Regions from separate parts of the Homo sapiens genome. Here region 1 is linked to region 2. Evidence: fine-mapped expression QTL. A gene starts in region 2. The other region holds a variant in brackets. All regions are shown on one strand. Distances are between the middles of the regions.

The links.
Region 1: its variant is fine-mapped to the expression of INPP4B in whole blood (TOPMed, PIP 0.97).

Annotation. Positions count from the first base shown.
Region 1 is chr4:142,698,742-142,710,858 of GRCh38, forward strand. All of the region lies in intron 2 of INPP4B (inositol polyphosphate-4-phosphatase type II B), which reads right to left. Among named protein-coding and RNA genes, the nearest start is that of INPP4B, 140 kb to the right of the region's middle. The variant C/G (reference allele first, on the strand shown) is at 6,500.
Region 2 is chr4:142,840,044-142,852,160 of GRCh38, forward strand. INPP4B (inositol polyphosphate-4-phosphatase type II B) reads right to left here and starts at 6,258. Exons shown (of 26, transcript NM_001101669.3): 1 at 6,166-6,258. The region is part of intron 3 of USP38-DT (USP38 divergent transcript); the gene reads right to left. It overlaps LOC124900788 (a long non-coding RNA gene), which reads left to right and starts at 11,431. Exons shown (of 2, transcript XR_007058286.1): 1 at 11,431-11,608. RefSeq lists an enhancer at 7,015-7,601.

The DNA.
Region 1 (12,117 bases), 140 kb before region 2:
TGCAGTCACAGACTCAAGCCCCCAGGGCTGGCCATGCTCTTATGCATATCCGTGTTCTTAGCTCAGCAAGAAGGCCTTCAGGAACCTCTGCTAAGAACTTATCATTTGGAGGAGCTGAAGGGGAACCTTGAAGACACTTTTCTCCACTCTAGCTCAATAATTTTTTACTCCTACCCCTTCCTTTTCACCCTTTTCCCTGGGCCCCTAGTATATAAAACTAAAGGAGACTTTTGTTCAAGACTCCCTCAGCAGTAAAGCAATTCCCCACATGTATTGATTCACTTGACCCTCAGATATCCAGTACTGTTTCACGGGTAAAATGGACAGAGGTGGTGCATGGGTGGGGTGGAAGTGGGAAGTGGTAGAGACAGTGGTCAGAACTTTCTCTGGTTTAGCTTCTTGCTTATACTATCACAGTGAGTGATTAAATGTTAGAGCACTATTTCATTGTGGTTTATTGTCATAATCAGCTATTCTGAAGCATGGTAGCACAGCACAGCTCTCTCCAGCTCAGCTTGGCCCCTGACATCTACAATCCATTGTACAACCACCTTTTCAATATACCTTCCCTCCTCATGTCCTCATTTCCATTCTTATCCAGCTTAAATGTCATGGTTGTTTATTGCATTCAGCCATATCTTTATACCTCAAACTACCATGACTCTCTTGTGCTTCATTATGCTCACTTGGGAAAATCATGAGCTTGGTAATCACAGAGCTTGGTAAATCACAGAGCTCCACCTACTCTGTCCTTTTACCTGTGTGGTTGAATGTGTCTGGAGAAAATCCCATAACCATACTGGCCAGCGTTGCTTTATATCCATGATCTTTATCTTCAATGGCAAATATATTATACATCCCTGATCCATTCACTCATGCATATACCTCAAATTCTATTAAATACTTTTGTCTCCTATTAAACATCTGACACCCCCTCCATCTTTATGTCTCTCTGACACTGTGCTTCCTATTTCAGTAAGAAAATATAAGCAACTGGAAGATATGCAAGCTCCCATCAAAAGGTATGCAATATCTAGACCCTTTTAACAACCTCATCTGCACTTGTATATCTTGCCTCTTCTCCATCATTGTGAGTCAACTCTATATGCATTTGTCTAAAACTAACTCCAATTTATACTAAATCTCAACTCCTCTTGCCTACTCAAGGGCATCATTTTAGCATTTTTTTTCTACAGTTTTCCCCTCTCCACCAGTTCTTTTTCATCAGCATACAAACAATCTATTACTTCTCCCATCTTAAAAGAACAAAACAAAAAAATTTTATTCAGCAACCACCCTCTTTCTCTCTCTCCCTGTATAGTAAAGCATCTTACTAGATTTGCCTATACTCATGGTTTTCAAATTTTCTTCTCCAATCCTTTCTTGAAACCATTCCAATCAAGCTTTGGGACTCATCACTTTATCAAAAGTCTGATGATGCCAAGTAGTATCTTCTAAAACCGCAACAGGGAGAAAAAAAACCTAGTGTCACAATAAATGAGGAATTTGAACAATACATGGATATGGGTAATAATAAACTTTTTATTATTTACAATGAAGGCACCAAATTTAACTTAAATAATGAGAGCACTAGTTGGACACATTTTATGGCTTCTCTTTTCCATAAATTCACAGTACTGAGTTGAATATGGTTTTTATAATTCTTTTTTGTGCTGTATCTTGTATTCCTTCAACTCAATCTATAGGAATTGAAGATGAAACCAGTCAATCAGATTCCTATAGAATTGTACTTATTTCCATCGTAGGATAGAGAATTACTTCTTTTCTTCAAAGTATCTGTTCTAAATTCTATTAACCCCTTCATTCCATCTTTTGGGAAAGAAAAGAGCAATCTTATTTAAGAAAACAGCTAGTCATTGTACACTTGCCCAATTTTTAACTCATTTTTGCCCTGTCTTATTTGCATGAAATTTTTTTTTTATTTTTTGCAGCAGGTGCATTTTCCTATCTCAGATTATAATCTTTTCTTAGAAGTAGGTCACATGACCTTTCTGTGAAATTATGTGTGGTTTTGTGTTTGTGCATCAGTGAAATGAATTTATATTTTTATACCAGCTTTCAGTATAAAAACTATCTGGGCCAAGGATTATTAGATAATATTATACCTAAAATATTATAAAATATTGATACCCAGATGATTTAAACATTTATTATCTCAGAACACATTATGGTTAAGATCATGTATCAGTCAGGGCTATAGATCAAAAACAAAAGAAACAGGCTCTGGCTACCTTAATCCATAAGAAAATTTATTGGAAAGATAACAGCATTAATGAAAGGCTAGAAGGCCAGTCTTGGGGAACTGGTGGGAGGAATGGAGCCCCAAGAAAGTAGGAATCACAGAAAAGTTTATATGGCAAGAGCAAACTGGTCTGCTTGCCACTCCTGGAGCAGCCTCTACTTGAAAGTTTCAGAAAAGTGCAGGTGGTAAACAAGGTATGTCATAATTACCACTGACTGTTCCAAAGAGGAGAGGATATCCCACCCATTTGGTCTCCATACTGGTTAGTAGGTACTCCCTCCTGCCAGCCTCTCCACAGTAGGAGATGCCCCAAAACAGAGGGTGGAAATGATGTATTATAGCCAGGAGAATGAGGAAGGTCAACTCTAAGGCTCCTTAAAGGAATGCCACATGGATCCAATCAGGTCAAGGGCAGCCACACTCTAACTGGTGCAATCAGGCTGGCATGATCATCAGATACATGCTGAAAATGAAAAATAATAACAAGCAGCACCGAGCAGCCAAAAAAAAAAAAAAGGTTTCATGGAAAGAAAAAGGGATTTGTCTTGGTAACAGTTTGGGCTTGTTTCTATTTCACCAAATACATATTAATATATATGAAATTGTAGAATTTTTTGTTAAACACTAGTTTGAAAGACCATTTCTTCTACTAGATACCTTCCTGAACCATTGCTTATAATCAAGCTCAGGAGTAAGGAGTTAGTACCTCTACCTTGATGTGCAGAGGACACAGTCGACTATGGAGAGCCTGAAAATCTGGTACTGTAGGTGATAAACCCTTCTAGACATCTATCAAATAGACACTTGGGTAGGTTGACTACACAGGTGAACTACAGAAGTTTCTCAAAATTGAATGAACACAATAAATATTTGTATTTACTCAAATATTCTAGATATTTTGATGTCTACTATACTATATATACTAGTACTAAAAATGTACTCACATTTATTACATATTATGAGAGTTCAACACAAAATGAACTAGGTGAAATCAGACTACTGGAAAGAGTTAGGCTCCCACTCACACTGAAGCTTAGCCAAGTCAAGCCTAAGTTAGGAGCCTGAGCAATCTGTTAGCAGTCTTACCAATACAAGGTTTTCCTGGCTTGTAACCCCACACACAGACCCTGTCATCTTTTCTGTGCTTTCATGGCTTTGTCCTCTTTAAGCTTTAGTAGTTTCTTTAAAAAAAAAAAAATCATTCTTTCAAGTTCAAATTGTTTGTTACAATTGGACACAAAAGACTCCATATAGGCACTGGGTAAAGTTGATTTCTTGTGTGTGGTTCACAGAATTCTTGTTGATGAGACCCTCTTAAAAATCATCTACTCTTCTTTATTCCAGTCTTTAGCATATTCCAGAAAGCCTAATTACTTATTGCAAAAACATAAAAATAGAAATCTCTTCACTAGATTATGATTTAAAGCATGAACTTCGAGGCCAGGCGCGGTGGCTCACGCCTGTACTCCCAGCAATTTGGGAGGCCAAGGCGGGCAGATAACCTGAGGTTGGGAGTTCGAGACCAGCTTGACCAACAATGGAGAAACCCCATCTCTACTAAAATTGAAATACAAAATTAGCTGGGCGTGGTGGTGCATGCCTGTAATCCCAGCTACTCGGGAGGCTGAGGCAGGAGAATCACTTGAACCTGGGAGGCGGAGGTTGCGGTGAGCCGAGATCACGCCATTGCACTCCAGCCTGAGCAACAAAATTAAAACTCCGTCTCAAAAAAAAAAAAAAAAAAAAAAAAGAACTTTGAATTTACTTTGGGTTCACAAACTATAACATTTTTAAATAAAGATTGATTTCTGCAAAAAAAAATTTCCCTAATTTGGTTGCATAGCATTAGTGATTTTGCTGCTGACTACATCTGAAGTTAGATAACATTGAAGATGTTTTTATCAACAAGTGCTAATATCTATCATGTTGAAGAAAAACTAGTTTATCTAGAGCACTTGCTCTGGAATTAATAAGATGTGAGTTTAAGCTTGGCTCAGAAACTTAGTAGCCATGTTATTTTGTGCAAGTTACTTAACTTCTATCAGCTCGATTTCCTCACCTGCCAAAGGAAGACAATATGTAATGATTAAAAGGAAGAGATTGTGAAAAAACTTGGTACAGAACCTGTTACTCTCTCTCCTGCCCTCTTTGTGAGTCTTTCAAGGCCATTTTTATCCATTAGTTAATGTAAATGAAACTCTCACAATGTCCTCAACTTGTTGTATTGGCCCTTCCAAACACAGCCACTTTCTCACAAATAACAAGTATGTATTTGAAATCTCAGAATTTTAAATTAATAAATAGTTTTCCATTTTTAAAAAGATAAATACCTTACAATAATGATAATACATTCTGCAGCAAGTTAGATTCAATGGTTAGGTCACAATACTATTATGGCAGAAGTACTATTAAAGGAACATTATGAGGGGCAGAGATGACAATGCCAGCCTTAAACAGATTGTTAAGAAGGCTAGAGAGAACAAGAGCTTCAGGAGAATAAAAGAAAAATGTGCTCCCAAATTTAGTGATGAGTCCAGGGAGTCCCATTAAACAAATTAGCAGGTTTGGAACATAGGGTTTGATGTTTATGGGTATATAAATAAAAAGCTTGTTTTCTCTGGGGCAGCTTAATTTACTACAGCATGTCTCATCGTTTCTGAAAGAATGAATGTTGCAATTATTAGTACCCCAAAGAATTAGTTCATCCTGGGATAAAAATGGGCTCCTCTCTGAGGGCAGAATGCATTGGTACCAAACTCTGGAGCATAAAGAAGACCAGATGCATTCCAGTAGGTAAAGGGGGCTAACTCAGGAAACAAGTGAACTAGCAGCACCAGACTAGTAACTCAGAAGAGTGGCTGATTTCTGGAGCTCCACCATTTGGTGCACCCCAGTATGAGAACATTACCTTCAAAGTGTGGAAGGAGATGGTGTATCCAAAATCTGGCACTTAACTAGCCAGGAGCAAGGACTGACCTTAGAAGCAAAATGGGGTGGTACCTCCCCAAAACCAATGAGAGTGTGTCGGTAGGAATATCTATTAGAAGAAGCTGTGTTTCACAGAGCAGAGGACTCAAGGCCTCACCAGCAACACAGGATGCAACGGGATGGCAAGATAAGGAGGCCGGAATGAACAAACCACAGGAACTTGTTCCAGAACATGTATGAAGAAAACTTTTAAAAACAAAACAAAACAAGCTGGGGCATGATGGTGAGGTGGTAGAGGGGAGACACAGAGTGAGACTGATAAATAACGTATTGGAAACATTTTGAGATAGCTAATTTTCAGCAACAAATCAGTAAAGAACTTCTGCCACAAGAATTTACTATAAAAATTAATTGCATTGAGTTATATAATGGTGAGTACAATGACATATGAATTACATATAATTTGGTAAAACTACCCCTTGAGACATCAACTTTATTTAAATCCTGTCTAAACAAGACATGTGTGGCCTCTATGACTTCACAGAATGAATTCCTTCATTATGCAGGATTCCCTTAACTTCTTGCCACAAAACTTACACATTCACAGGCTTCTACACATTTTTTTACTCATTCCTCCCATTACCATGGGGAAGTTAAATTTAAAATTAATCTCCCTCCAATGCTCTGTACGATATCCTTCCCAATTGCTCAAAGATCGCTATCATTTGCATATTCTTTTTCCCTGCATCTTTCACGTTCTTTTCTACTCACTTTTCTCTATTGCCACGTAAACATGCTGATGATTCCTTTATTCTTAACAAATGACAAGAACAACTCTCCCTCAAGCCCTTGCTCCTGATAGTCACTGCATTTATTCTTACCACTCACAAACCTGTTGACATAAATGCCAATTTCGTATGTACTTTTCACCCCCACCCATCCTTCATGTCACAGTAATCTGGCTTTTGCTTCTACCTTCCCTGATTAGTGCCCGCTTAACCATCACTTTGTCCCTTGACTAACCACTGAATTTAATGCATTTCTCAGTTTTTATCTTATTTAGCATTACAGAAACGTTTACTCTTATTGGCCTTTATCCCCTTGAAATTCACCATACCCTTTCTGGTTTTCCCTCAGACTTTTGTTCTCAATCTCTTTTACTGGCTCTTTTTGCCTCTGACTGTTCTTAAACTACTGCTCCTTCCTGGTCATATTTTATTTCCAATCTACACATATTTCCTGGAAATGTCCTCCACTGCCCTGGATTAGATGGGAACCTTGATGTTCAGGACCATCGGTTCTCTATTG[C/G]CAATCCAGATCGTGCTTCTCCGCTGGACAGCTTCTACAGACACTTGCGTGGGCTTTCAATCCTGCACATTCACTGAATGTATCATCTCCCACAGACTGACTCTCCTTTTTTTGTGTATCTCAGTGAATGACTGAAGCCATGAACTTAATTGATCAGTAAAAATTCTGCATATCATCCTTCTCTTCCTACCAAGTCTCTCTACCCATTCCCACCCCAAACACACACACACACACACACACACACACACACACACACACAAAGTCAATCATATTCTCCTGATTTCCAAGAGTAGATTACTTCTCTTCAGCCATTCTACCACCCTCGATCATATATTGCTTCTGGGAAGCTGCAGTTGGGGTGATATGTCCTAATGGTTCCGAGCATGAGTCTCTAAGGCAGAGATTGATTCCTACCTCTGCCACTCATTCACGGTGCTACTTTCAACAATCTATTAATGTCTCTAAGCTTTCATCTCTTCATCTTTACAGCTGGCATTATTATAAACTCCAGTCTCACAGGATTATCTTAATAATTAAATGAGATAATGTACAAGGTTTTGTTATAATGCTGTCAAATAGTTAAGCACTCAGTATACTGCATTAGACAGTGTTTCCAGGCTGCCAGCCTTACTCCTTGGTATCTATTCTCCACAGTGCAACCTGGGTGATTGTCCTAAATGGAAATGTAATAAAGCTCCCAAATTAAAACCATTTAGTGGCTCCTGTTACACAGAGGACAAAATCCAAATCCATTAAGGTGACTCACCAGCTCCTTCATGGCCTGGCCTCTGCCACACTCCCAGCCTCATCCCTCAACCTTTCCTCCTGTCCTGTTATACTGACAGGTAATTTGCTTCCATTCTACCTAAACTTCATGCTTTTACATCTCCAAACTTTGCAAATGCAATTATCCACATTTGAACATCTTTCCCACTCCTGTTTGCCTGGCTAACACTGTCAGGCCTAAGCCCTCGAGGCCATTACCTTGGCTGTGAATACGCATAGCACCTTGGCATACCCAGAGCACAGCTACATTTGTTTGGCTGCCTGTCTCCCTTTCTGGATTTTAAACTCTGTGAGAGAGTGGCGGATATGTATGTTGTTTACCTTTGTACTTGGTTCATGATTGATATTTGATAACAATTTTGAGAAACTATATCAATCAATCAATCAGTCAATAAGTTCGGTTGCTTAATGGCCTTATAGAGAGAAAAGGAGCATCCTGTCCTTTGTCTAGTCTGGCTAGGGGTATGTATTTGCTTATCCATCTGTTTCATGTGTTTTGTTAACATGCCTCAATATCCAGAGCTCAGCCACCAGAGCTGATGACCTGACATTAAAAACCACTAATCCATTAAGCTGCAATCATCCTAGGCTAAGGCTAAACAAGCAAGCTTGGCTTTACTGCATGCTTCAAAAATAAATCCCATTGGCTGAAGTTTAAAGCAGGGATCTCACATTCATACACCTACACAGGCCAGACAAGCCTCACAAATGAGTGATATGCATTATACACTATGCATTTGCTGGGTAATATAAGGGGCTGAGCTTAAAGGAGAATACAGGCCTTGTCTAAAGACGCTAAATATTGCTCAACTCCAGTGAATTATTTCAGATCTTCTGGCTTATTCTTTACACCTGGAAATCTAAAATTTGCATATGAAGCTCTTCATTTTAAAACTTGGCTTATTAAAATAACAGGAAACAAACAAAACAAATCTATGGGATCTGTCTGGCTCCTATGAATTATCAATTCATAATCTTAACTTTAAACCAATGAGAAAGAAGACAGAATTGTAAGTTGTGAATAGATAAGTACTAAACTGTCAAGTCCACCAATCCCTGCACTGGATCAGCATCTTCTTCTACTCAATTACTCTCCAAAACTTCACTGTTATCCTCAACCACTCTTGACATACACTCTCTTACTCTCAGCAGAAGATCCTAATTCATATAGAAACTCAGAGATATTAGTAAATAACCTCCTTGTCTTCCCATTCTCAGTCTACAAACTTAAGTATAATTGGAACCACTCAACCTCAAACGAGAGGTGGCCATTCTCTTCTTTAAGAGGAATGCTCCCACCTTTTTTCCTAATGCAGTGCCATCCCATTAATTATTTTGTCTCTATCAAGGCTCCTTAGTTATGTCTTTCTGATATGGTTTGGATTTGTGTCCCACTTATGTTGAATTGTAATCTGCAGTGTTGGAAGAGGGGCCTGGTGGGATGTGATTGGATCATGAGGGTGGACTTCCCCCTTTCTGTTCTCATGATAGTGAGCGAGTTCTCATGAGATCTGCTTGTTTAAAAGTGTGTAGCACCTCCCCCTTCACCCTCTTCCTCCTGCTCTAGCCACATAACATGTACCTCCTTCCTCTTGGCCTTCTGCCATGATTGTAAGTTTCCTGAGGTTTCCCCAGCCATGCTTCCTGTACAACCTGTGGAACCATGAGACAAGTAAACTTCTTTTCTTTATAAATTACCCAGTCTCAAGTAGTTCTTTATAGCAATGCAAGAACAGGCAAATACAGAAAATTGGTAGCAGGAACTGGGCATTGCTATAAAGATAGCTGAAAATGTGGAAGCACCTTTGGAACTGGGTAAGGGACACAGGTTGGAACAGTTTAGAGGGCTCAGAAGAAGAAAGATAAAGGAAAGTTTGGAACTCCCTAGAGACTTGTTAAATTATTGTGGCCAAAATGCTGATAGTGATACGGACAATGAAATCCAGGCTAAGGTGCTCTCAGATGGAGATGAGAACTTATTGGGAAATGGAGCAGAGGCCACTTTTGTTATGCGTTAGCAAAGAGGTTGGAGGCATTGTAACCCTGCCCTAGAGATCTGTGGAACTTTGAACTTCAGAGTGATGGTTTTGGGTATCTGGTGGAAAAAAATTCTAAGCAGCAAAGCATTCAAGATATGGCTTGGCTGCTTCTAACAACATATGCTCATATGTGTAGGCAAAGAGATGATCTGAAACTGGAACTTATTTTTAAAAAGGGAAGCAGAGCATAAAAGTTTAGAAAATTTGCAGCCTCACCATGTGGTAGAAAATAAAGACCCATTTTCTGGGGAGGAAATCAAGCAAGCTGCAGAAATTTGCATAGGTAAAGATGGAATGTTAATAGCCCAGACAATGGGGAAAATGCCTCAAAGGCATTTCAGAAAACTTCAAGGCAGCCTCTCCCATCACAGGCCCATAGGGAGGAATGGTTCTGTGAGCTGGGCCCAGGGCCCTGCTGCCCTGTGCAACCTCAGGACACTGCTGTCTGCATCCCAGCCACTCCAGCTCCACCTGTGGCTAAAAGGGCCCCAGATACATCTCAGGCTGCTGCTCCAGAGGGTGTAAGCTATAACCTTTGGTGGCTTCCACATGGTGTTAAGCCACGTGCACAGAGGGCAAGAGTTGAGGCTTGGGAGCCTCTGCCTAGATTTCAGAGAATGTATAGAAACACCTGAATGTCCAGGCAGAAGTCTGCTGCTGGGGTGGACCCCTCATGGAGAATCTCTACTAGGGCAATATGGAGGGTAAATGTGGCGTGAGAGGCCCCACACAGAGTCTCCACTGTGGCACTGCCTAGCAGAGCTGTGAGAAGAAGGCTACTCCAGACCTCAGAACAGCAGATCTACCAACAGCTTGCACCGTGTGCCTAGAAAAGCTGCAGCCACTCAATACCAGCCTGTGAAAGCAGTGGAGGGGGCTTTCTAGCCCTCCACTGTGGTTCTACCCTGCAGAACCACAGGGGCAGAGATGACCAATGCCTTGGGAGCCCATCCCTTGCATCAGAGTGCCCTGGATGTGAGACATGGAGTCAAATGAGATTATTTTGGACCTTTAAGATTTAATAACTGCCTTGCTGGGTCTTGGACTTGCCTGGGGCCTGTAGTGCCTTTGTTTTGGCTGATTTCTTCTTTTTGAAATGAGTGCATTTATCCAATGCCTATACTCCCATTGTATCTTAGAAGTAACTAACTTGTTTTTAATTTTACAGGCTCATAGGTGGAAAGGACTTCCCTTGTCTCAGATTAGACTTTGGACTGAGGACTTTTGAGTTAATGATGAAATGAGTTAAGGCTTTGGGGGACTGTTAAGAAGGGATGGTTGCATTTTGAAATGTAAGAAGGACATGAGACTTAGGAGAGGCCAGAGGTGAAATAATATGGTTTAGATTTGTGTCCCTGCCCAAATCTCATGTCAAATTGTAATCACCAGTGTTGGAAGAGGGGTCTGGTGGGATGTGACTGTATCATGGGGGCAGACTTCCCCCTTGCTGTTCTCATAATAGTGAGTTCTCATGAGATCTGATTGTTTAAAACTATGTAGCACCTCCCCTTCACTCTTTCTCCTGGGATGTACATCCTTCCTCTTCTCCTCCCACCATGAGTGTAAGTTTCCTGAGGCCTCCCTGGCCATGCTTCCTGTACAGCCTGTGGAACCATAAGCCAATTAAACCTCCTCCTTTATTAATTACCCAGTATTAGGTAGTTCTTTATAGCAATGCAAGAATGGACTAATACACTTTCTTTTCAACTTATTACCTGCTTTGTCTCAGAGGGGAAATTGTCCTTTGATCTGTAACCCCCTCTATCTATTGCCCACCTCTCATTTCCTTTCAAGTTTATTCTTCATACTGTTCTATAAGCTTTAGCATTGCATTAGCATAGATTTACAGCCCAGGAGGAAATAATCATTTCTATTGGCGTACGCAAGTTTTCTGACTTTCAAAAAATATATTACTTAATACTATTTGTTTATTTGACAAATCTGTATTAGCCTCTAGTATATGCCAAGCACTGCTCAAGAAGGATCCATTCCAGATCTCAATAGGGATGAAAGCTCTCCAGCATAGTTAATTCCTTCTGCTCTAGGCCATGGATCTCCATCTCAGAGGTCATAGAGGCAGAATAAAATCAAAGTAGGGAAACTTGCCCATATTTTTTGTTGGCAGGATAAATTTATGAGCACAGCCAATGCCTTTAACTGTATACTGAGTCTTAATGATACTAGAATACATTTGGATTAGCTTTCCTATTGATTTCCAGTTTGTGATTATTCATTGAAGGGTAAAAATTGTATATGTAAGAGAGAGATGATGTTTTTGAAAGTTTCAACAAAATGGCCAAGATATGATACTGACAAACATGGTAGAGGATGTGGACAATGGTTCCAAGAAGCAATCTTTTATCCCTGATTGCTACATATGATCATGTTTTTGAAATCATGAGTCAAAACCCTAGAGTGGGTTATAAAATCAATTTAATAAAATGTAGCATTTTTTTAAAAAGATAATAAAGAGGAGAATGGAAAATATGAGTGTACTGCACATATAAAAAGTAGTTTTCATGTAACAAAATATTATTTTCACATATTGAAAGCCACTTATTTGTGTCTACCAAGCTTCATGAATGAGCAATCTATATCCTCCACCTATACCTCATTACTTCCCAATCTCAATCAGTTGTTTTTGCTTTAGTAACTCCACTAAAACTATTCTTGAAAATGCCACAAATTTACTTCTATTTGTCAAATTTGATGTATCTCCTTCAGATATAATACATTCATAGTTGAATTCTCTGCAGTGGTGTACATTGTTCATATCTTGTTAAAACTTGCACT
Region 2 (12,117 bases):
ATTATTCAGTCAAAGGCAAGGGTGTATATATCCAGCTTAACCAAGAAGAAATTGTAAAACAAGTTTCAGCTGTCATTGTAACCAATAAATTATAGTACTATATGGCTGATTCAATTTGGTCACTGGTGACCGGGTCATCACTATAACAGAGGACATTAGGGGATCTGCTGAAGTGTCATTGAGGTAATTTGCACTTTTTTTGCATTCTTCCAAGGGCAATGCAACAGAAAAAAAATAATAGTTATAGTCTTTGACTCCTAGAAAAAAAGAATTTGCTCAGCAGATGCTGTGAGGGGATTAGGATTAAAAATGCAAATGGTTAATACAATATCTATTTTAGAATAATCATAAGTTTTTTTCTATCATGTTCATTTAATTTTTTTTCCTTTCTCTTACCCAGACACAAACAGAATTTTAGCATATTTAATTTAATTCCTAACAGTTCCTCACATAAGCAGATCTCACATAAAAGCAGAGTGTGTTAAATATTACAATCAAATCTTTAAAGTATTACTCATAATAGATCTTCTGAATATACTACTAAGAATTTAGGTGCCTGTTGACTTTAACTTTATTAACTCACTATGATGTAAATAAATTATGTTTAAAAGAAAAGTTTTAAAAAATGAATATATTGCACTTAAAATGACTCAAGGTTTCTAAGCATTGCACACTGCCACCTAGTGCTAAATGTCTCTTTAACACCAAATGCACAATGGATGTCTTCCACAAAGTGGAAATGCTATATTTTAAACAAAATTTATTCAGAACAACAGGTCTAAAATACTTTATTCATAATTCCTTCAAAATAAGAATGCTATTGGAGATAAATGCAATGACATATACCATAAAATCACACCCATCTCAAATTAAAATTTAAAAGATCTGAATGGATTAGTTAATATAAAAAATTGCAAGTCTTGTTAATAAAGACATCCTCTTTTTAAAAACAAAGTGATTTACAGGTTTTGTTAAGGAAGACAAGAAATTTTTACTTTTTTAAAAAAAAGTGATTTTTAACTACTGCGCATCAATTATGCAGCTATTCTCTTATGAATGTGATGTATGCTAATCTCTAAGTGGAATATGTGGTTATCTAGCAAGTTTCGCATAAGAAGATGTTGAAAAAGACATCATAGAGTGTTAACTGATCACTAACAGTACTTTAAAGCTTCCTTGGAGATAACCATAATCTCCATGCACCTATAGGTTCTAACTTCAATTAAAGATCCCACTGGTTTTAGTCCTACTTTATTTTTTATTTTCCCAGCATTGAATAGTTTTTGTGTTTTGGTTGTTCTAATGGCAAGAGCTCATCTCTGATCTTTTGGCTAAGAAAGCAAAGCCCCATGAAAATGAATGAGAACCATTTTGAAAGAACTAAAGGAAAGATTGCTATTGATGGTCAGGGAGTATATTCTATTTAATTCATTGTATTCTAAAATGGTAGTCCCCAAGTCTGATCTACTTAATGCACTACAACTATCTATTCTAAGAACTAAGGTGAAAGGTGAAAGGCTCATATTTCTGTCAAATTTTTCATAGTAAAAAATATTAAGAGGATTCCTTGTAAATCATTGTTGCTTAACATTTAAAAACTCACACTCTCTTTTGAGAAACATAAAAATCTCGAAGTTCTCCTTCAAAGCTATTTAAAATATATAAATAAATGATCTATTATAAACAACTAGTAAATGAAAATTTTTAAAAATCATATTTTTCTTTTGATCTTGGAAGATGCTTTACATTGATGCTGTTACTCCAATCATTAGAAGTCAGCATGACAATTAAAGTTGTCTGTGTATCTCGCAAACTTTTCTATCCTTGTAAAACAACAAAGAAAAACAATTGAGTAATTTCACCATTGTTTTTTGTATTGCTTTATTTTCATAACCAGAAGAGTATGTAAAGATAGATAGATAGACACAGATAGATAGATTGATAGATAGATCGATAGACAGATAGATAGATACAGGCTCTCCTTTTAAGGGAGGAGATGTTGCCTTCATTCCCTTGAATATTATTGATTTAGATAATTCCCAAAGAAATGTATAACCAAAACCACATGATTTGAAAAACTTCTCAAAATTTCCTTTAATCAGTTTAAACAAATTACTGCCAATTCTATTTCACTTAGTTCTTCATAGGGCTATTTAAAATCAGGACACCAAGTTGGCATGGCTGCCTAATACAGAAGATAGAATTTACTCAAAATACTGCAACTCAAGAAACTCAGTTTGAAATATATTATTTAAGGACATATACTGTATTGAAACCCAATTCACATCATGCTGGAATGACATCTATTATAATAGCTAATGTTTGGTGAAATTACACAGTCCATTGAAAAAAATCTAAAGTTCTGGCTCCTAGATATTCCATTGGCCTTATGGTATACCATTGATAGCAAGATACTTCCAAGAAATAAGAAATAAGATAGTGAGTACAACTGTGCCTTATTTAAAAAACTATTACATATATTATATTATAATATATACAATATCTATTATATATAATATATAATATATGATATATAAGATAGTTATTGTATTATTATATGTATAATATATAATATATTTATATATAATAATCCTAACATAATATATTATGTTAATATATAACATAATATAATATTAATATATTAATATAATATATAATATATAAATATAATATATTAATATATTATAATATTAATATAATATATAATATATCTATAATAATCCTAACATAATATACTGATATATAAATATATAATTATATATAAATATGTATGATATATATAAATTTATATATCATATATATCAAAATATATATAAATAATGATATATATAAATATATATGATTATTATATATTTATATATAATAATATATATACTATATATAATATACTGGATATATATAAATATACATATATAAATTATATATAATGTAGTCCATAAAATTTCCTAAACATTTTAAATGTTTCTTTTAATCTACAAGGTAGTGAAAATATATTTAAAAAAATAAACTAACACAGTTTGATTCAAGTGACCATTGTGCCTGAGACTGAAAGAGTAATTAAAATTTTTGCACATATCTTAATGTCTTTTCTAGGTATATACTGATCTTTTCTAGGTATATACTGCTCTAAAGTTTTAGAACACAAAGACTACATGTATCTTGCACAACAAAATTCAATCATAGCATCATCACTTGGATTCATCTAAAAATAAATGTTTAAACTAAAATTATTTAATAATCTCATTTCTGAAGCCTAAATATTATAGTATATATGATTAGAGTATGCTCTAAAGAGCTCTCTAATCAAAGGTTTCTAGCTCAACATTTTTTAAAAGTATTAACAAAGTGGCCTATGGAAAAGATTCCTTAAGGCTTTAGAAAGATATACAGGACATGTTGAAAAACTAAGGTACATAATACAGAAGAGACTCACACAGCTTTCACCTGAACATTTAACTTGAGATTATTTAAAACAGGGCATTTCTATCTATTAAAATCCCCATAGTTGTGAAAGACAAAAATTTATTTTGTACAGATTAGGTATGATATTTGTATATCTAATATTAGTACTACTGGGCATCACTCAGTATGAAATAAGAAAATGTAATAGATATTCAGTAAGCATTTTACTCACTAATTATGATTCCATAATTTCTTAACTTTTTGTTCTCAGATGTCAAATACTTACCTAGAAACTGCCACTCATTTGGTTGCTATGAGTTTTAAGATCAGTTAGCAGGTTTTTTTTCTGTCTTTCAGAGAATTGTCATCTTGGGTTCTCCCTCAAGGTAGTGAAAGTTAACTTTGTTACCCATCTGGGGATTTATAGTACTTATACTAGAAGATGCTCCAAGGTTTCAGAAAGGAATTAATTACTTTCAATTTGCACAATTTAGAACAAATATCTGGCTTTTCCCTAAGCTTAATGATTTTCCATTTCACACAACTAAAATATAATAGCATTATTTTATAATCAAGTTTAACTGATGGTCTATGATAGTAGAGCGATTTAGTATTTTGACAAAAATCTTATGAGACATGAAGTCATTCAATTTGCAGCCCCAAACTGAAGCTCAAACACAACATTTTAAAAGTATTTTCTGCCTATACCTTTGACTGCATGCTACTTTAAATAGAGGGACAAGACTAAATGGTCTATCTGGTTGTTCTTACACTTTATAAAGAGTCAAAAGCAAATTTGAGTTATAAATATGCACATCATAGTGATCATTATTTTATCACAAATAAATATTGATTTGCTTAATCAAAGAGAATACTCTCCTAGAATAAGAGCAGTATTTCAATCTGCAAACATGTTTCTTAATGTCACTGAGCATTTAGCCTATCTTCACACACACATTTCATAACCTTTCAAGGACAATCTTCTACATCACATTTTAAGGAAATACACTGAAAAAGCAATCCATTTTGCAATAGCATTTTACATTACTACAAATTCACGAGGTTCAACCTTCAATGCCCATGTACCTTTCACAAAACTATTGATCATTTCCTATCAATGCTTTACAGGATTATATCACAAAGGAACACATAATGCATGTATGTGCATCAATGCGTAAAGGAGAGGATGCATTTCTGTGCATAGTATGTGAACTGACAATGCCCACTTGCCCAGTCCTTGCTTTACTCAACTTCTTACACATCATCAGCCAGCTGCCCTGTTGATGATTCCTTGCACCTTATGCGCTGCTTTATCATTGAGTCAGATTACTACCATTTCTGGTCCAGAACTCATTAAGAAAAGTCCTTTTTCAAGCAAGGTCTTTGAAATGTAGTTGTACACCTATAAAAGAACTATCTGGAGCTCATCTTGAGAGAGAGAAGATGAATTTATCCTCTGTCTTTAGGCTTTTACTTACAGAGCCACACCTTTATAAACAAGTTCTGTCTGTCATACTGACAGGAAGGAGATATGCAAAATGTAACATCTGGAGTCATAAAATATAATGACCTCAAATAACATTCCAGAAAGAGAAAGGAAAACTAGTTCTGGTTAGGGAGAAGATAAAAGAGGAAAAGGAGTAAATTTACATCCTTAAAACAAGAGTAATAGAAAACCCTACCGGGTTTTTCCAGTAAGTTTTGTGCAGCAGCAGCAACAACCTAATCAATATGTGCTTCCTCACCCTCTTGTCCCCAAAGAGAAACTGCTGGGCCCCTCTCCACCGACTCCCCAGGAGCAGAAACTACTGCCCCCAAGGAAGGGAGAATTCAGAAGCGTGGGGAGGGGGAAAAACAGGTATATGTGGTTCTAGCATCCTCATCTTCATATCAGCTACCAGCCTGAAACTACATTCAGGAACCAGGCTCCCAGACATTCCCCGGCCCTGGGCCCTGCCTGAGCGCCAGAGAGCTTGAGGAGCCTGCAGCATAGTTCTCAGACCCGAAACAATGACCTCCCCCGTCCAAACCCAGGCACTCTTGCGCCAAGGCCCTAACCTCTCAGCGAGACCTCTTTGGGGAAGGACAAGAGATGCTGCCTGATGGCCGAGAGAAGACATGCCAGGCTTCTCTGCCAGAATGAGTTGTTGAGGGTGGGATGAAGGTGGTCAAGGAGATGGGCTCTTTATTTTTAAAACAAAAAACAAGGCAACCGGGACCACCAACATCAGTCACCCTCACTCCCCACCACTGCCTCTATTCCTTAAGGACTTCTTCCCAGGCCGGCGGCGGCGGCGGCGGCGGCGGCGGCAGCTTGCGATCATCAGGATTGGAAGTGAGAGCGAGTGCCCGGGCCAACCTCAGCGTCTCTCAGGGACAGCGCAGGTGGGCGCAGCCTTGGAAGGTCAGCGAGGCCAGAGCTCAGAGTTCCACGGGGGCCCGGAGAGTGTGCGTGTGTGAGTGAGAATGCGAAAACGCGCGCGCGCCGGGCAGAGGGGCGCTCGGCGAGAGGGTAGGCGCGGTGACAGGGGTACCCCAGCAGCCGAGGAGAGACAGCCCACCCCACCCTTTAAGCTAAAGAGCTGGAGGGGTGATGGAGGCTGCAAGACGGAGAAACTTGATGCAAAACAGACAGGCTCCCCCCTCCAAGACGTGCCGCCACGCTCTCAGACACGCTCCCTCGCCTCCCGGATTACCCACCATCAACCACCCCACCCTGCAAAATTCCCCCACCGAGCCCTAGGATCCCAGGCGGGTAATTACCTCTCCCGGAGGCGGAGTGGGGGGCGGCAGCAGCAGCAGACACTTTTAGCCTGACTTTCCTGCGTTCGCTTGCGAGCGTGTGAGCGTGTGCGCGCCCAGGAGGAGCTGTAACCTGCTATTTATAGACCGAAGCCTCAGTACCCGGGGCTGAGAACCCGGAGGAAACTAGCAGGCGGCGGCGACGGCGCAGGGCGCCGGCCGCGGCTTCGCGAGGCTCCAGCAGCTCCCCCAGCCTCTGGCTTCGGCCGCGCTCCCTGCTCGCTCCTCGCCTACCAGCCCCGCGCGCGCCCCAGAGAAGTTGTCACCAGCGCGGCTGGCTCTCCGGCTGCTCACACGCCCCCTGGCACAATTGCTACTTTCTTCCACCCCAACCCCCACCCTCCCCGCTCCTCTTCCTCCTCCTCTGCTCTCTCCAAGCGGTCTCCTCCCAATGTCACCAGCGACCGAGTAGAGGCGGCCGTGGCAGCGACAGTCGCGCAACTGGCGCTGCTCGCTTCCCGCTACTGATAGAGCGGAGATGGTGGCCCGGCTGCCCACCCCGAAATTACCACGCTGGCTCCGTGTGCTCACACCCCGTACCCCGACCCCTTTCTGCGGCCCCTCTGCCCGCTGGGTCGCCCACCCAGACTGGGCTGTGGGATCACCGCTACCGCGACGAGGGGGGACCCGAGGCCGCCACGCTGCTGCGGGGGCAGGAGAAACCACAGAGAAAGAACCCGCGGGAGGAAGAAAGCGCCCCAGACCCCGGCCTATGGCAGCGCAGTCCCTAGACCGAGGGTTTTTGGAAGGGGCTTGGGATCCCTGCTGTCACTGCCTGCGTCTAGGCATCCATTCACGCCTGCTGGACCCCAGTCTGCAGCCGCGCTGGGACCCCTGTCTCTTGCCCCTCCTCCCCCTTGCCCCGGGCAGAGGTCGGGCTGAGGAGACCAGCTTAGAGCAGCCCTCGGCCACCCACCGCCAGTTCCCACGTCGCGGCGGGTGACTGAGGCCGAGATGCTCCCAACTAGCGTATGACATGCCTTTGATATCCCGGGTGCGTGGGGACAAATCCGCCCTGAATGTGTTGGGGTATCAGGAAAACGGGGTATGTAAGCAAGCAGTCTGGACGGAGACTAAAACTCCCCCACTTCCTAGCCCCTAACAAGCCCACAGGGGAAAGCACGCACCCTGGTTATTCCGGGCTGTGTAGGGTGTGGGGCAAATGACTCTCCCCATCTGCGCTTTACAGGTGCCACCTGGCGGCTCTCTCGGAAAGGTTTTGATGGAGCCGTTCAAAGGTAAAGGTGCCCAGAGCCAGCCCATCAAGACACCCCAGCCCTTCTCCCTGAGGGCGCTTTAAAATCACATTTTAAGTAAAGCAGTGTACGAATGCTTGTACACAAGTGTTACATTTGCCATGCAAAAAGACTGGAATCTCAAAGTCAGGACAGTGAAATCAATTTGGGTTAAGTCGGGGCTTAACAGTTTCACAAACCAGGAAGCTGTATGTACCCCCAGCTGTCACCCCTGCTGTCACTGCCCGCATCTAGGCATCCTTTCACTCCTCAAACCTTTGACCACCACATTATAAGCCTTGCCAATGAGGACAGGGACTTTGGGTTTGTTTTGTTTTGTTTTGTTTTGTTTTGTTTGGTGGGGGGAGTTGTTTGTTCGTTTCATTTATTTTTTTCATCACTCTGCTCCCAGAGCTTGGGACAATACCTAATATTCTGTAGTTTCAATAAATGTTTATAGAATCAAATAATAAACACTATAGGCCAGAAACTGCTTGGCGCCCCCGAAGCCCTTCCTTTTGCTTCTCTTCAAGCTTTTTCTCCTATGCTCAGCCTCTACCCCAAGTGAGCTGAATGCAGAGAGATAGGAGAGTGAGGAACAAATAATCCCTGTCAAGATGTGGATCAGCTTTGAGAAGCCTTCACACAGTTAGATTTCTCCTCCATGGGGCAGCACTGAACACACCCATCTCCAAGCAATGGGTAAGCCGTGTTCATAGAGATCTGCTGGAAAGATGATACAACTTTCTCACTGGGCAGTTTCTGATTTTTCTCACAATAGAGAGAGATTGAAATAATATCAGGACATTAGGATGTCAGAGCTTTGCTACTAAATTGGAAATATGGTTAACATATCTGTCCTCTAAGTGGAAGAGTGTGTGTGTGTGTGTGTCTGTGCGTGTGTGTGTTTATGAAGACTACAGCAGCAATGCCAGAAATACCAAACCATACCTCCTAAAAGACTGAGTTGTAAAATAAATGCAGTTACTGATTCTATGGAAATGGACGTTTAAAGTGAGATGCTTAGAGGACCCTATTATAATTAAAGTCCAGACATGGACCATGCTGACAAAGTCCTTTTACAGGGCGGCTGAAGAATATGTGACTTACTTGTGTACATCACGTAGGAAGTTTGAATTCTCAGAAAAGAGAGAATATGAATCAGGATGCCATCAGATGCATGTACCACAAGGCATTTTTAAAAATCCATCAATCATCCTGATATTTACCTTTTTTAGTTATTTGGTGGCTTTTTCCTTGAATAAGCCTGGAGGATTCAGATGCTTCCGTGGTTTAATAAACTCATTCAGCATTCACTTTTACAAACCTTGAACTTTTGCTGACTTGTACCCCCAAAACATAACTCCATTTGCCAATGAAGGACAAAATATTTTTCATTTCCTTTTGAAATATCTTTGTAGGGCCAGAAGTCAAAGGTGATTCCCTGTAGTTACCTTGCTGTCTAAAGCAATAAAATCAAGCCAGGATCTACAGGGTTGGTGTCACACTCGCCTTTGCAGTGAAGCAGCCTACACTCTCTCCATAGATTCATTGTTCCTCTAGATTTTTATCTCAGGTGAGATTAATATGACATCATATCTACTTTTATGATCCTTCACTATTCAAAATCTCTTCTAGAATATAGCACCAAGCATCATATAGGTTTTTTAATGCTTACTCAGTTATGTTAACAATAACTTGTAAAGTAAGTCCTTGTTTTCATCTCAATTTTTAAAAACTTAAAAATTACAGAAACTTTGTTATGTATACATTAGCATCATCTCTTGTGTGTATATTGTGTGTGTATGTCTGTGTGTATTTAAATTAAGGGGGATGTTGTTAGAAATAAGAACTAAAGTAAAAAGGATAAATTATTGTAAAGATACTTGGCTGCCCCATGGAACCCCAAAACAAGAATGCAACTGGGCACTAGGAATGACTGGAAACAGACAGGCCATTAGAACTTTCTCTGTCTCTTTTCCCCCACTACATTAACTGTCCCATTCTGTATCTCTCTCCCTCTTTCTCTCTCTCCCCACATACATTGTCTCACTCTCTGCTTCTCTGGTGTGCACTAAATTGCATGGTGGCTAACGACTCTTAAACTTTATAACTTGTGAACCAGTTCCAAATTCTCCAAGTACTGTGATTCTTCCAGCTACCAAACCCCAGCCAACAACCTTGGCCAGGGATGGTAATCAAGTGACATTTTCATACCTACTGTAGTAATTAGGTAGATTATAGTGGGAGGCTGAAGAAGAAGAAAAAGGATGAAAATTCCCAAAATGAGGGAAGGAATACAGGTCATTCCTGACCACTACTATCTCCTATTCCTGGTTGTTTCATCAACATTGACACAAAAGACAAAAGAAAGTAGGAAAAAGAAATATTAAAAAAGCAATAATGTCTATGGTGTATTAATGCATATGCATGTTTGAATATTGAATAAGATGGAATGCCTCTTACTGTTGGTAGTGCTCGAAGATAGCTGTTCCCAGTATAAGTAGCAGTATGATTTTATGATCTCTCGGCATGGGGCTGGGTGAGTATGAGAAAGAAATCAAGTTTTTCACAGACAGTTTACTTTAGCTTCTTTTTTCATGGCAAATTAAATAAGAGATTTTTAAAATAAAACAAATGAGTGTGCTAGAATTTTACATTGATTGAAAATAAATATTCGTGGCTCTTGCGCTTTGCATAGTGGTTATATTTGTAAAATTGTATGTAAATCATATATTTGAAAATGAGTCACATTTCAAATATAATAGGGTGGTGAATCTTAACATTTTTGCAGTCATAAATCCATTGGAGAATTTGAGGAGAGCTGTGGACTCATTTCCCAGAAAAATATGAGCATGCACACACACAGTTACAATGGGATGTTATATGACATATTTATTTGAGACCTGGAACTTAACACTTTATATTGCTTTTGTCTTCCCCCAGTCATTGTTATTTGAACAAATGAAATAAAGACTCCAGATTCTTAAAACCTTCAAAATGCCCGGTATGTACAAGCCAAAAAATGGGTTGGGGTGGGGGACATATGTGAATGCAGAGAACTAGCTCCCTCTTCACCAGCTCCTGCTCCAATGAGTCCTAAATAAGCTGTAGTAGGAAATGAAGACTGAGCTCTTAGAAGGAGGGGAGAGAGTTATAATGTGGGGAATGCTGTATTCGTCCACTAGGGATGCCATAACCTCTTACCAACAGGTTTGGTGGCTTAAACAATAGAAATGTATTTCTCACAGTTCAGGAGGCTGTAAGTCAAAGGCTGAGGAATAGGCAGGTTTGGTTTCTGAGGCCTGTCTCCTTGGCTTGCAAATGTTGCTGTCTCGCTGTGTCCTCAGGTGGTCTTTCCTGTGTGCATTTGCAGCCCTGGTGTCTGTGTGCGTCTAAATTTCCTCCTCTTATAAGGACACCAGTCAGATTGGATTAGGGCCTGCCCTAATGGCCTCTTTTAATCTAATTGTCTTTTAAAGGCCCTATCTCCAAATGCAGTCATATTCTGAGATACTGGGTGCTAAGGCTTCAACATATGAATTTGAGGGGGACAAGATTCAGCCCATAACAAATGTGCACTACAACAAACTCCAGAAAGGGTCTGGGGGTGAAGTTTGGATATAAATTTCTCCCTTCTGTAAAGAGGACCCAAGAGTAAATACTTGTACTGTTTTCCCCTTGGAGTATCAAGAAGGCAAGGGTGTAAAGTGGGAATATAAATGCTAGCATGCCTTATCTAGATCCTAAAGGGCTAATGATCCCTGGGATTTTGTTGCCTAAGTGATGAGGAAGAGGCTGTGGTTCCTTTGGGCTATAGGAGGCCTGGAAGTTAGTCAGGAGTGACAGCCAGCAGGACAGGTAATCACCAAGAGGTCCCCTGGGAGGGCGACCAGATTAAATGCCAAGGAAAGGGCGTGGCCTGTCTATGGAAACATAAAGGTGTGGCTACAATTGCCATGGCAATGACCTCAGAAGAGTCAGTGGCTATGCACTAGAGTAATGCCATCTTCATTCACACCTCTAGAATGGAAGCCAAGTCAGCTCTTCAGAAAATGACAGACATGTCCCCCAGTGTCATGATGCTGTGTAAGTCTCCCCTGGACCAACAAGCTCCCCTGGAAGTAAAGGCGAAGGAAAAATGGGAGGGGCAGCAATACTTAAACTGAGTAAGTTTTAAACCAGGGTAGACTTGGTTTAGATTACTGGATACAACTAAGAAAACTAAATTAAATTTGCTATTTCTGAGTACAAATAGGGGCTTATAATTAAGTTAATTTTATGGTAGAAAAATTATGTTCCACTTTTTATACCCAAGGTTTAAAAACTTAACTGATATCCTTTTATATTTCATGTTTTAATATCTTCTCAGGAAGCTCATTGATACCCCTGAATAGCATCTATGATTCCATATTAAGAATATTTGTCCTAGATGATCTGATTCTTTAAATCTGGTTGTAGGAAAAATATATTTAACTGAAAAAAAATCTGCTAATATATATAATTCTCACTGATGTATTGTTTGAAATGCTATTTTCTTTTTTTTTTTTTTTTTTTTTTTTTTTTTTTTGAGATGGAGTCTTGCTCTGTCACCCAGTTTGGAGTGCAGTGGCACGATCTCAGCTCACTGCAAGCTCCACCTCCCAGGTTCACGCCATTCTCTTTCCTCAGCCTCCCG